Linked DNA regions of Homo sapiens. The protein of the gene in region 1 purifies or fractionates together with the protein of each later gene. This does not show direct contact. Each region holds a gene or a part of one and is shown on either strand. Other genes may lie near its edges.

Region 1 (3,500 bases):
GAGGCCCTCAGAAGCCCTGCAGCCAAGAGACCCAGGACATGGCCTGTGGGCTGGGGTGCACTCAACCTACTTGACCGTGAAACACTTTTTTTGACAAAAAACGTATTATTATCCTGAAAAAAACACATTTTAGGATACAGAGGCTCACGACTGAGCTTCTTCCCAGAGCACTGCATTTTAATTGGGGGACCCTATTCTGCCCCAAAGAAATTAGCCTTCACTAGGGAAAGGCAGTCTTCCAATGTCATCATGCAGGCACCAACTGCCCCCAGCTCAGTGAAGGGGCCACCATCTGTCCAGTAACTCAGGACTCACCCTTGATCCTTTCTTTTCCTAACCCTCACACATGCAAACCCTCAGCACATCAGATTGGCTCTATTTCCAAAATGTATCCTCCATCTGGCCCCTTTCCCTCCCCTCTCCCACTGCCACTCTGGCTCAAGCCCCTGGCATCTCTCTCCTGGCTTACTTACTCCATCAGCCTCTAAATTCCCTGCATCCACTCTGGCCCCACTGAAACCCACCTCCTCACCCTGTTTGTGTCCTCCTCTGTCAGTGGCAGTGATATTAACACACCTAACCCAGGGGACTGTTGGGAAGATGGCACCCTCACTCAGACAGTGTCGGGCACAGAGCAAAACTGGGACAGGTGTTAGAGGCGGCAACAGCATCTCCCTGCCTGCTTCAGACCCGTGCTGACTTCAATTTCACCCAGTGCGATTCCGCATTACTCTCGTGTATTTTCTCAAACACTTTTCATGGCTTAAAATGACCTATTTAGTTAGGAATTGTTTTATGAATGTCTGTTTCCCCTGGAGGCTCCATGAGACAGGGACCATTTCCTTCACAGTCCCTATGCCTAGCACGGGGCCTTCCAGGAGCAGGTACCCAGCACGTGCTTATCGAATGAATTAAGGAAAGTACCCAGCATATGCTTATGGAATGAATGAATGAAAGTACCATCCACTTTGCTGATGGGTGCTCACGCGCCTCCACATTAAGATTCCATGTCCCGCCACTTAACGCACAGCATTAACACCTGCCATGAGGACTGCCAACCCCCTGCACTCCTGCTGCCCTTCCCTGCTCCACACCCAGAGCTCCACACTCAGCTCCGGACAGCTACGGACAACTGACTGGAGTTGCTGCAATGTATACACCTATCTGTGGCCAGGCACGGTGGCTCACACATGTAATCCCAGCACTTTGGGAGGCTGAGGCAGGCAGATCACCTGAGGTCAGGAGTTCAAGACCAGCCTGACCAGCATGGCGAAACCCCGTCTCCACTAAAAATACAAAAATTAGCCGGGCATGGTGGCACACGCCTGTAATCCCAGCTACTCGGGAGGCTGAGGCAAAAGAATTGCTTGAGCCCAGGAGACAGAGGTTGCAGTAAGCCAAGATCACACCACTGCACTCCAGCCTGGCCAACAGACCAAGACTTTCTGTCTCAAAAAAAAAAAAAAAAAAAAAGCAGATCTGCTCTTCCTGACCTACCATGTGCATGGTAGTGAGCAAGGTCAGAAGAGGGATATCAGGCCGGGAACAGTGGCTCATGTCTGTAATCCCAGCACTTTGGGAGGCCGAGGTGGGCGGATCACTTGAGGTCTGGAGTTCAAGATCAGCCTGGCCAACATGGTGAAACCCTGTCTCTACTAAAACTGCAAAAATTAGCTGGGTGTGGTGGCAGGTGTCTGTAATCCCAGCTACTCGGGAGGCTGAGGCAGGAGAATCGCTTGAACCCAGGAGGCGGAGGTTGCAGTGAGCCAAGATAGCGCCACTGCACTCCAGCCTGGGCAACAGAGTGAGACTCTATCTCAAAAAAAAGAAGAAGGATATCAATATTCTTTCACGAAACATTGTTGTTAGCGCCTACCTCATGCACATTGCCACGCTGACACTATACTTATTTGAGAGCTCCAAGAATGCAGGGATTTTTATCTGTTTGGTTCACCACAGGATCTCCACCACCTAGAGCATTGCCTGGCATAAAGTAGGCCCTCAAGAAATATTTGTTGCTTTTGAATAAATGATCAGACACTCCTAGTACCTATCATGGGCCAAGGCTGAGGCAGGTGCTATTGCAACACTTATTAGCCACTTGTCTGTGTGACACACTGAGCTTGGGGCTCACAGGACTGCAAAAGGCCCTTTCAACAAATACTTAGTACTAGACTAGAAGTTCCATGAAAGCTGGTACCACGTCTTTTTTTTTTCCCCCCCTCTCTCTCTTTGCTGTGCCCCCGGCTCCTGGCACTTGGTAAGTATTCCATAAACCCTTTCTGAATCTATGAAGGGAAGGATGGATGAAGGAAGAGATGGAGGGATGGGAGGGCAGAGGGATGGCTGGTGACAGCACTGATCTCAGGGGGTCGGAGGCTGCCCCTGACCCTTCCCAGGAGGCCCCAGTCTGGTACCTTGAGGTCCAGGTGCAAAACCCTCATCTTGTGCATGAAGAGGATCCCGTCACAGATCTGCCTGACAAACACCATGGTGTCCACCTCGGTCAGATGGTAGTCCTCATCCACAATCCTCTCGAAGAGCTCTCCGCCCTCGATGCTGTGTGCACAGACCCCTCCACGGCTTGCTCCGTGCCTGGTGGTACCCCCACCCAGCCCCTACCACTACTTCGGGCACTCACTACTCCATGAACAGGACGATCTCATGCGGAGTCTCGATGGCTGCATACAGCTGGATCAGATTGCGGTGGTTCAGCTGGTTCATGACCTCAATCTCCAGCAACACCATTTCCTGGGGACCAGGGAAGTCAAGGGTACCAGCTGGGCACCATCACTCCCTGCCACCCACCCTCCATACCCGCACCCTTGAACAGGCCTGCTAGCCTTGCCCAGATCACTGCTCAGCCTCCTCCTTGCCTCTCCTCTCTCCCCCACCCCCACATCTGTGGTCCTCACCACTCCCAAGTCATGCCTGCTGGGACATCTTCCTTTTGCCGGCTCTTCTCCTGAGTACTGACATGCCAAGATCTCCATCCTCCCCCCTCACCGCTTCCCTCTCTCTGCTCTCTCCCTGGGCATCTGCATAAAGTCTCATGACTTTACATTTTATCCAAAGTCATCAATTTCCAAATATACATCTCAACCTCTGAGCACTCCATTGAATTCTAGACTCCAATATCTCCAACTGTCTACTTGCCTTAGTTGTCTAATAGACATCTCAAATCTATCATGTCCAAAATTAGACCTTAGACATCGTCCCTTCCCCACAATTGAGTTGCTCTCGGCTTGCCTGGCAGCAAAAGTACCCCCACGCTTCACCCAAGGGTGCAGGACAAAAAGTTACGAGCCATCCTAAGTTCTTCCCTTACTCTCGCGCCCTCACACCCCACCTCCGACCCAACTCTTCAGCATCATCTACCTTCAAGCTAGATTATACATCCAATCATTCGCACCTCCTCCACCACTGCCTTCCTAGTTTAAGACACCATTATTTGTCACTTTCAGAAAGTCGCAAGCCAGCTGTCACATCGGTAGGCTGAT
Region 2 (3,500 bases), 2.2 Mb from region 1:
CCCCTGCTCATTCTTCCCTCTTTCCCCCAGGACCAGAACCCCTGGGAAGGAGAGAACAGGAAGTTCACAGTGGGGGCAACCAGCTCAGGCTGCCCATTCCCCTGTTGGCCTCCTGAGAGTAGGAGCACAGTCGAGTCCCAGTCGTGCCCCTGGCCAGGCCCTCACCAGCTCTTCCTCGCTGTGTGTCAGGAGCCCTTCCTCATCGCCGTCGTCTCGGGTCCGTGCTTCCCCCTGGGGCAGGCCTGCCTCAGAAGTTGTGTTCTCTTGGGGGGCTGGTGGCCGGCTGCTGCCACCGCCACCGCCACCACCACTGCCACCGCCACCGCTGCCACCACCACCGCCGCCGCCGCCGGCGCCACCTCCATCACCCTTCTTCTTGCCATCTTGAGGGGAAGGGGTGGAGGAGGGGAGAATAAAACTCAGCCTGGGGTAGCTGTCTAGGGCAGCACCTTAGCGGAAGCTGGCCTCAGCATGGTGAGTGCAGGTGGTCCAGGATCTGCAGGGCCACCCTAGCTCCTCTCTCCCATGTACTATTTCCCCATGCTCTGCCCTGTGCCCTGGTCATGGAGGTGGGTGAGAATCCTCAGAGGCTGACCTGGATTGGCCTTTTGCTCCGCAGCGATCTGCTCCAAGCGGCTCAGCAGGGCATCGATATTGGACTTGATCTGTGTCAGCTCCGTCTTGATGGCCTGCAGCTCACTGCTCTTTACTGGGAGTGGAGGGGGGACAGGGCTGTCACCTAGGGGGCTGGAGGCTTGACACTAGCACAAAACCTCAGCCCTGTTCTTTCAACCAGGAAAGCAGTTATTTTTTGTTTTGTTTTGTTTTTTCCCTGCTTAGGAAAAAGGTCTCCTCCTTAGACTACCTGGCGTCCATCCCTACAGTGACAGCACACACTTCTGAACCTGGCTATCTTTTCTCCTGATCTCTCAACTCTGAAAGGGACCAAAGACAGACAGGAGCACAGGTGTGTATGTGTGGTGTGCTCTTCTGTGTGCACCTGAGCAAGAACATGTGTCTTTTGGAATCTGAATTCCTGGGTGATTAGTTAAGCAGCATGTGTGTACCAGAGTGAATGTGGAGTAATGGGCCTGGGTAGACCTGTCCTTATCCTTACTAGAGGAAAGATGGCACCATTTCTTCACTGGGCACCATATCCAGCACTGGACTCTCTGTGCCCAACACAACCCCTCCTCCTAAAACATCAGCTGTTTCCTCTTAGAAATGCATGAAAATACTTGGCTGTGTTAGAGCAGCAGAACTGTGGAAGACTTGTTGTTTTATCTATGTTCCAATGTAAAAAATGTGATTCTATTATTTTGCTAATGATAAAAATGCAAATTACTTAGGAATATGATACAGTCACTCACACTTGATCTTGGCTGAGCTGGTGGTGACAGCTGTGGAGCGGGCAAAGAGCTTGACAGGTACGTTAGTTTTGACACGCCGGACCAAAGGGACTGTGACCCGGGGTCGCTTCACAGGGACCGCCCTGGGCACTGGCACGGGCGACAGACGGCCCCGGTAGTCGAAGAGCCTGTGAGGGCAGATGGGCCAGAGGCTGCAGCATGGCTTGTGGCCACCAGGGCGGTATTGCAGCTCCGGCTACAAACGTGTGTGGCTGGTGAGGGGCTGGGAGGCCTGCACTACACACCTCTGCTGGCTCCTAGCAAGCCCTGGAGTGAAGAGGAAGGGCTTGCCGGACCCTGATGGCTGTTGGGATCCTCACTACCTCACTACAACCTCTCCAACCATCCAGGCCCAGTAAGGGCAGGCAAGGCATCAGGTGGTAGCAGTTATACCCCATTCAAAAGAGGAGACATCCCTAGGTCCCCTGGCACCCAGGCCTGCTCTATTACATGACCTGGCTTCTGCTTGGTCAACTGCCACCCCAACCTCTGCTCAGAGTTTGCAAATCTCAAAGCAGCACAAATCCCCAGCTAGGAATAGAGAGGTATGGGAGTGGGGGTCAACTGAGCCTACCTGAGCCTCAGTTTCCCCATATGCCAAATGAGGATGGCTATCCACATTCAGTGTCCACCCAAGGGCACAGCATGAAAGAATTCGGTTAAAAACACACTTTAGAACGTGTAATAGATGAAAGGTCAGGGTACTGAGACCCTCAATTCACGAACCCATGACCTCAGAGGCATAAGACTGAACTCTAAGCCCTTTCCTTACTTGACCTCCTTAATCACCACATCCTTCGTGCTCCATTCCAGAGACAAAGGCCAGGGGCTTGGTAGAGTATCAAGGTTGGGCAGCTCAATCAGACCCCCCCAGGGCTCCCAGGCTGTGCACTGCCCCCAACCAAAGTCATCTCCAAGCCCTCTCTAGGAGGGCTTCCTTTCCAGCTGACCAGGCAGAAACTCAGTAGGCTGAGAAGTGGTCTCTCTGACATCTGTTGCTGCCACCTTTTTCAGGGAATCGCAGCCCAGGGGGTAAACTTTGGGTCAATTTTCCTGACAACGGCCAGGAAACCTGCCATCACTGGGCAAAAGCCCCATTCCTTGGGGCTCCTTTGTTCAGGGAGCCCCTTCCTGGAGGTGGTGATGGCTGCAGATGGAGAGTCTCTGGGAATGGATCCGATCCCAGACCCTGCATTTCTGCCCCCAAGGGGAGGGAACGGCTCTGGCCTTGGTCAGAATCACTGAACCACAGAATCCCAGAGCTGGAGGAGCCTGGAGAGATCACTTGGTGCAAGCCCATTTCACAAACTGGGAAGGGAATTTGCCCAAGATCACATAATCCATTCAGTGGCAGAGCTGAGATTAGCATCTAAATCTTCTGACCCCCAGGCTAAGACACTTTCCACTACACCACACTGTCTCCTGAAACGACTCACAGGGGCGGGGTGGGGATGGGGGCGGACGACTCATGCTCAGAGAGGCACTGTTCTTCTTGGGCTGCCTGGGGTGGGCTAAGCTGGACAGAGGGAGAGAAGCAGGGAGGAGGAGAGATTTGAGTTAGTATCTACCATGATTTCTACTCAAGAATGTGGCTAGTGCTGTTGTAGTGGGAGCCCACAGCCTCTGGGCTGGAGTCTGGGTAGGGCTTGGGAGTGCAGGGTAGACCACAGCCCGCCAGGGACTAATTAGACTTCCAAATGGCTGCTGGCCTCTTGTCTCTAAATATAAACCCAAGAAGCTTAGACTGAGCTCTGGGGCTCCTACCAGCTGCTTGGGCACCTCACAGAGGGAAGGGCTCAAACTCCCTGCAACCAGCGCTGTACCCTGTTGTGTATTCCAACTAGCCACACTTACATAGCTCTTGGCTGTACGGTCTCCTTGAGCCTCACCCAAGGACAAGAAGGAAAAAGGGCAGTTAGCATGGCAGACAGTGTTGTATGGTGGTAGGAGCTCTGGCCTGAGCACCTGCAGCACAGGACCCCAGTCTCAGCTCTGCTACCGACTGGTGGAGCAACCCCAGGCAAACCTCTGGGTTTTGGTTCTCATTTGGAGAACTCAGTGGGCTGCACCAACAATCTCTCAAGACCCTTC
Region 3 (3,500 bases), on another chromosome or scaffold:
CTTAAGCTTGTATCATAGAATTATGCTATTGCAAGTGTTGATAGAGCAATGTAAATATTGAAAGTAAGCACAACTGGAATTATACCCGTCAGTGAACTCTTGATAGGTTAGCAGTACGCTATGTTTCTAACACAGACAGTGAGCAATTTTGATGGTGATCCCTGGGCTTGATTCTTGGTTTTGCAAACTTTGTAATTAGGGATTCTTATTTCATTTGTCTTAAGTAATAGCAAATGTAAAAGATGGGAAAATGAGAAAGCAGCTTTTATGTATTAGAATGTGAAAAAGATTATGAATGCATAAAGCTATACAAATAGACTTACACCTATAATATACACAAACTATAAGTCTTCTCCCTGCCTACAAATGCCTTACAAAAGAGTCATTCTTGGATTTCCTGTTTGCAGTCATAGCTAATTTTTGTTTGGTAACTACTGCCATGGTAACCAAAATTATGATTTTAAAAGAATTGTTTATTAAATCATTAATATACAGGAAATTATTTTACTTTTTACAAGGTGGTGGTATCCAGAGAAATTATATTATTAATTATGAAATCAACTTTTTCTAGGAGAGGAAGATAAGGAAACAAAAGACTAATCAAAAACATTGCAAAACTGCAGATTTTCAGGATTTTAAAGAAAAATAATTTGGTAATTGATAACTTCACTACTGTTCTTTGAGTAAATATCCATGTTTAAAATTTGCCTCAAGCACTATTAGAGGATTAAATTTAGAGGTTATGCTTTTCAACTGCCCAACTACAATCTTTGACTCTCCTACAAAAGAGCTGCCATTTAGCATGGTTTTGTCAATTTTCAGTTCTAAGTGCCCTGTCTACCTAACATTCTAGTTAGATAATGGGGAATTAGAGCGATAAGGATATGCATGACTATAATTTTCTAAGTATCACTGTATTTATTTTGGTCAAATTCAAAAAAGTAAAAAAGCATAGTTTAGAATTGCCAATTTCTCTGTTCCTTAGTCTGTTAGAATGGTGGGGAGTCGGCTCAGATTTGAGCATGGCTTAAAGTGGGAGAGCGTTATTAGAAGCCAGCCTAGTGGGGATTGCTGAGATCTCATCTGCTGAATGACAGCAAAGTTACTACTCTGTAAATATACTTAATCTGAAATGCTGAATTATCCTCAAACCATGAGTGATTCAGCTTGTGTTTATCATTGTGACATTCTGGCCACTGTGAAAAGCTGTAAACAGGAGTTTCAGGGTGTTCATTGCATAGCTTATCTGAGCAGCGAGCCCAGCAGAAAAGATGGCATTCAGCCCAGCAGAAATGCCTTGATAAGGAGTCCATTAATGCATCTCTAGCCACAATGAACTTTTCCCTTGCTTTGTTTGATGATAAAGTGATATCATGTTTCATTGAAAAATGACCATGTAGATGTTAGGTGGATTTTTGTTTTTATATGACCACAACGTGACAGTCTTAACAGAATGAGTCACAAAGTAAGGATCAAGGATCTGATTTTTCCTTTATGAGATACTGGCCTACAATAAAAATAACTGGGGGTTAAAAAAATTACCCTTTGTTTTTCGTAGAGAATATTAAAAGTGCAGTTTAGATTTAAAACTACAGACTCTAAACTCCATATCTATCAGTATCACCTCTTGAGCAAAATACCGATGTCACCTTTGATAGATTTTTTTTTAAAAAAGGAAGGAAGATGAGTGAGCAAAACAGATGTGTAAGTTAACTACAGTGCTGGATAGAATGACATAAGTGCTATAATACAATTTCTTATCTGGGATGAGGAACCTTTTTATAAACAAAAATTAATCATTGGTTGATATTTTTAAAAACACAATAAAAATTTATTACTTAAAAGACAAATACAGGGCCAATTAAAAAAATTATTAAATGCAAGAGACACAAAATTACTTTAAGTATATAGTAGTTCCTAATTGCCTACTGTCAGTTTCTCTGCCTATCTCATCACAGACTAGTGACTTACACTTTGTGAACTGCCACTTTGAGTAGCACAGCAATAATAGAAATACAAACAACTGTTATGAAGTCTTAGAAGCAGAAGTAACTAACTTTAATTGTGTGGGTTGCGATTATTTTATCAAGGAAACACCTCCTATAGAATAAAGAAGCTTTCATTAGGCAAAGAAAGCATTCCATAAAGAGGAAATAGCATGAACCAAAGGTACCTGGCTGTGAAAAGTCAGTAAAACCACCCTTGACATTTTCAGTTTTGTCTCTTCTAAAATAAAGCTAAAGTAGATGAGCTGCAGTAATTTGTAATTTTTCCACAGTACAGGTTTGAATTAAAGAGGTATGTCACTGAGCTAGTATAAGACCCTAGCCCACAGCTGAAGAGTTTCTGATCTCCCTTAACTGTGATGATTATTTAATACATTGTGTCATCTATTGAGAGAGAGGAGGAAATTTCACAGTAGAGTCTAGCTCATTTAGGCTGGTCTGGACTCTGAGCTGTGGACTGGGACCACAATGTTGCCAGGTTTTCATCCTTCTTAGATCAGTGAAGCCAACAGTAAAGGTCATGCCCAACTGCAGGAGCACCTTTTAAGCCTCTTCTTATGCCAAAGCAGTCACATGTCCAGTTCTGAAGTCAAGGAGAGAAGTCCAGTCTAGCAACTATGAGGCTAGGGCAGGGATATGATGTTGAATACTATTACGTGGGAATGAAGGATTGGGACCATTACTTCAGTCTACCACGTGTGCTATAGAGGGACAGTTGAATGTAGGGGCTTGAGGATACTTTTCTGAAGATCTTTCATGTATCAAGAGTATTCTGAGATGATATTCTGTATGGTATCAGACTACACGTTTCAAAGCAGAGTAGTTTTTGGTCATTCTGAAAAACTGTAGAGGAAAGTTAACTTTGCAGTATCCCTTACTTGATATTTAGGGTTTCCTTTTTTTAATCTGGTCACTCTTCTGTTAGCTTTGAAACATAGGCCTCTCCAAATTCATTCCAGCCGGGTCATGTGACTTCCGTGTTAAACGAAGACATGTAAAACTCATTTCTTTGGGAAATGGCAAGTTGCCTAAGGTTTTGAAGGGGAATTACAAAATATTACCTTTTATATACTGCAACAAATGGAAAATATATTCTGTGAACATTCCAATAATATGTGTTAGACTCTATCTTTGGTAATGGAATAGAAGGTTATCCCAAGATAATTGGCAGAATTTAAAGGTAAAAAGAGGCAAGACAGATTTCAGTGGCCTAACTCCACAGCTCTTTTAAGATGTCCCAGGTAAACCAGTAGTGATGTTATTCATTGTTACTTTCTCATGGACCAGATAAAATTAAGCCAGAGGGTAGGATCATCCTGTGGACCACTGTTGCCCACTTTTCTCTAACAGTTAGGGAATTTAAAGGAAGCAGCGCAGACTTTGACTTTTCCAGACATAGATTTGGATCCCACCTTTGATATTTACTCAGTAATTTGGCAACAGTTGCTCCTTGGTTTCAGAGATCTAATCTGCAAAACATGGATAGTACTTCTT
Region 4 (3,500 bases), on another chromosome or scaffold:
CTGATCACCTGAGGGGTCGGGAGTTCGAGACCGGCCTGACCAACATGGAGAAACCCTGTCTCTATTAAAATTACAAAATTAGCTGGACATGGTGGTGCATGCCTGTAATCCCAGCTACTCGGGAGGCTGAGGCAGGAGAATTGTTTGAACCTGGGAGGCGGAGGTTGCAGTGAGCCGAGATCGCGCCATTGCACTCCAGCCTGGGCAACAAGAGCGAAACTCTGTCTCAAAAAAAAAAAAAAAAAAAAAAAAAGGAAGTAATCAGAATATCAGAATTATATTTTTTTCTTTTCTTTTCTTTTCTTTTTTTTTTTTTTTTTTTTTTTTTTTTTTTTTTTTTTTTTTTTTTTTTTGAGACAGAGTCTTGCTCTATCACCCAGGTTGGAGTGCAATGACACAATCTCGGCTCAGTGCAACCTCTGCCTCTCGGGCTCAAGCAATTCTCCTTCCTCAGCCTCCCGAGTAGCTGGGATTACAGGCATGCGCCACCACACCTGGTTAATTTTTGTATTTTTAGTAGAGACGGGGTTTCACCATGTTGGCCAGGCTGGTTGTGAATTTCTGATCTCAGGTGATCCGCCCGTCTGGGCCTCCCAGAGTGCTGGATTGCAGGCTTGAGCCGCCACGTCTGGCCTCTTTTCTTTTTTCTTTGTTTTGAGACGGAGTCTCGCTTTGTCGCCCAGGCTGGAGTGCAGTGGCGCGATCTCGGCTCACTGCAAGCTCTGCCTCCCTGATTCACGCCATTCTCCTGCCTCTGTCTCCCGAGTAGCTGGGACTACAGGCGCCCGCTACAACGCCCGGCTAATTTTTTGTATTTTTTGGTAGAGACGGCATTTCACCGTGTTAGCCGGAATGGTCTCGATCTCCTGACCTCGTGATCGCCCGCCTTGGCCTCCCAAAGTGCTGGGATTACAGGCATGAGCCACCGCGCCCGGCCTCTTTTCTTTTTTAATTAGAGACGAGATCCTGCTCTGTCACCCAGGCCAGAGTGCAATGGCATCGTCTTAGCTCATTACAGCCTCAACTTCCTGGGCTCAGGTGATTTCTTCCACCTCAGCCTCGCAAGTAGCTGGTACTAGAGGCTTGTGCCACCACGCCCAGCTAATTTTTGTATTTTTTGTAGGGACGGGGTTTCACCGTGTTGCCCAAGCTGGTCCTGAGCTCAAGCGATCTGCCCACCTGGGCCTACCAAAGTGCTAGGATTACTGGCATGAATTACCATGCCTGGCCCAGAATAGTATATTGAGTGCCCATTTACTTGCCACACAGTTTCAATGATTATCAGCTTGTGGCCAGACTTGTTTATCTCTATTTGCATCCGCTCTCTGACTCCTTGATTATTTTAATGCAAGTCGCAGACCATAAATGATTTCATTCATAAGTATTTGAGTATGTGGCCTGGCTCCTGCCCACTTCTCCATCCCCATCTGGTGCCACTGCCCTTCTGGATTTCACTGGCACGGGGCAGGCAGGACTGGCTGATAAGTGCCCTGTCCCTCCCTTCTAGGACAATAACGGTGTGATTGGACTGTTGGAGCCCATGAAGAAGAGCATGGTGCCTGTGCAGGTGCAGCTGGATGTGCCTGTGGTAAAGGTGGCCTCAGGTGGGTCTGGGGGCACTTGCTCAGGGCAGGAGTTGGAGGACCTTGTTCTGGGGCTGGCCTAGCCTTGGGCCTTACAGTTGTGGCCTGCATCCCTTACCTTTTCATCCTTAGGAAACGACCACTTGGTGATGCTGACAGCTGATGGTGACCTCTACACCTTGGGCTGCGGGGAACAGGGCCAGCTAGGCCGTGTGCCTGAGTTATTTGCCAACCGTGGTGGCCGGCAAGGCCTCGGTAAGTGGCCTTGGTACCTCCAGCAGGGCAAATTGGCAGGCCACCCCCACAGTGAAGGCCAAAGGCAGGAAGGATTTGCTGTGGTCAGGCTTGCATCAGATGGGCTTGTGGTGTTGGTTAGGACTTTGGAGACAGACTGCTCTGGTAGTTTTGCCACCTACTGTCTATGGGACTCTGAACATAGTTTCTTCATCACTAAGTCTACCTACCTGTAAACCTACTTCATTAGGTTGCTGTGAAGTTAAATGAGTTAATGAGAAGAATATCAGGCAGATGGTAAGTTCCACGTAAATGATACCCGTAATGACTGTGGGAATCTGAGCAAGGCACTTGTATTCTCTTGATCTCAGTTTCCTTTTCTATAAAATAGGGATAAGAGTCCCTACTTAGCCTCTCAAGGGCTTTTATAATGGAGGAGAATTAAACTCGGGGCAGAGAGAAGCCATGTGTGTCTGTCTGTCACTGACCGTGGCTTTCCCTTTGCCTGCAGAACGACTCCTGGTCCCCAAGTGTGTGATGCTGAAATCCAGGGGAAGCCGGGGCCACGTGAGATTCCAGGATGCCTTTTGTGGTGCCTATTTCACCTTTGCCATCTCCCATGAGGGCCACGTGTACGGCTTCGGCCTCTCCAACTACCATCAGCTTGGTGAGCCCCGAGCCCAGCTTCAGGCATGACCCAGTGGCCTGCGTTCCTGTCCTGGCTCTGCCACTCATTCATTGTGCATCCTTTGCGGGGTCGTCTAACCCCTCCAAGCCAGTTTTGTCATCTGTAAAGTGAGAATGTCCATATCCTGATGGGAGGTGGCCTCACTGTGGGAGGAGATTGAGAAGGGCAGCTCTCAGAACACCTTCACCCCTGATGGCTCCGGCCTTTCCCCCAGGAACTCCGGGCACAGAATCTTGCTTCATACCCCAGAACCTAACATCCTTCAAGAATTCCACCAAGTCCTGGGTGGGCTTCTCTGGTGGCCAGCACCATACAGTCTGCATGGATTCGGAAGGTAGGGCCTTTACGTCCTTCTCTAGTTTGGGGGTGGAGTGTTCCCTGGCCTAGGCCTAGCCAGATTCCTGAGACCATGGTCCTTGGAGCCTGGGTCTGTTCCATGGGTTGTACCATACATGGGTCCATGAGAGTCACTCTCATCCTCCTAGAGTCCTGGTGTTCTTCCAAGTGTGAGTTCAATGGGGGCCCATGTAGATTCTCCTAGGCCTCCTCCAAAACTGGGAAGAGACACTGCAGATCTCCTTCTGATCGCTCTGGGAGCAGGGACACACTCCCATGGACAGGTGGACTCACCTAGCCTGCCACCCATTTTGCCTGTAGCACGCCCTCTGCTATTGCTCATCTCTCTCCCTCCTCCCATAGGAAAAGCATACAGCCTGGGCCGGGCTGAGTATGGGCGGCTGGGCCTTGGAGAGGGTGCTGAGGAGAAGAGCATACCCACCCTCATCTCCAGGCTGCCTGCTGTCTCCTCGGTGGCTTGTGGGGCCTCTGTGGGGTATGCTGTGACCAAGGATGGTGAGTGGGGCTGCCTACACTCTGTCTAGTTGGGACCTGGGGGTCATGGTTCTTACCCAATTCCCCAATAGGCTGTGATGTCCACTCTCGGGGGAGCCGAGGTACAGAGAGCAGTGTTTGTGATGGCACTTTGTTCCTGCTTC

What was found.
Region 2: the proteins of MYLK2 (region 1) and RALY purify together in Homo sapiens (affinity purification with mass spectrometry; one large-scale study listed by BioGRID and IntAct). This does not show direct contact.
Region 3: the proteins of MYLK2 (region 1) and TES purify together in Homo sapiens (affinity purification with mass spectrometry; one large-scale study listed by BioGRID and IntAct). This does not show direct contact.
Region 4: the proteins of MYLK2 (region 1) and RCC1 purify together in Homo sapiens (affinity purification with mass spectrometry; one large-scale study listed by BioGRID and IntAct). This does not show direct contact.

What each region holds. Positions count from the first base shown.
Region 1 is NC_000020.11:31,825,856-31,829,355, reverse strand, and holds part of MYLK2 (myosin light chain kinase 2, skeletal/cardiac muscle), read right to left. Parts: intron 2,752-3,500; coding exon 2,642-2,751; intron 2,560-2,641; coding exon 2,418-2,559; intron 1-2,417. UniProt on the Homo sapiens protein: Implicated in the level of global muscle contraction and cardiac function. Phosphorylates a specific serine in the N-terminus of a myosin light chain.
Region 2 is NC_000020.11:34,073,911-34,077,410, reverse strand, and holds part of RALY (RNA-binding protein Raly), read right to left. Parts: intron 1,538-3,500; coding exon 1,371-1,537; intron 710-1,370; coding exon 596-709; intron 384-595; coding exon 166-383; intron 1-165. UniProt on the Homo sapiens protein: RNA-binding protein that acts as a transcriptional cofactor for cholesterol biosynthetic genes in the liver. Binds the lipid-responsive non-coding RNA LeXis and is required for LeXis-mediated effect on cholesterogenesis.
Region 3 is NC_000007.14:116,217,039-116,220,538, forward strand, and holds part of TES (testin), read left to right. Parts: intron 1-3,500. UniProt on the Homo sapiens protein: Scaffold protein that may play a role in cell adhesion, cell spreading and in the reorganization of the actin cytoskeleton. Plays a role in the regulation of cell proliferation. May act as a tumor suppressor. Inhibits tumor cell growth.
Region 4 is NC_000001.11:28,533,543-28,537,042, forward strand, and holds part of RCC1 (regulator of chromosome condensation), read left to right. Parts: intron 1-1,507; coding exon 1,508-1,604; intron 1,605-1,715; coding exon 1,716-1,838; intron 1,839-2,328; coding exon 2,329-2,484; intron 2,485-2,719; coding exon 2,720-2,839; intron 2,840-3,204; coding exon 3,205-3,357; intron 3,358-3,500. UniProt on the Homo sapiens protein: Guanine-nucleotide releasing factor that promotes the exchange of Ran-bound GDP by GTP, and thereby plays an important role in RAN-mediated functions in nuclear import and mitosis.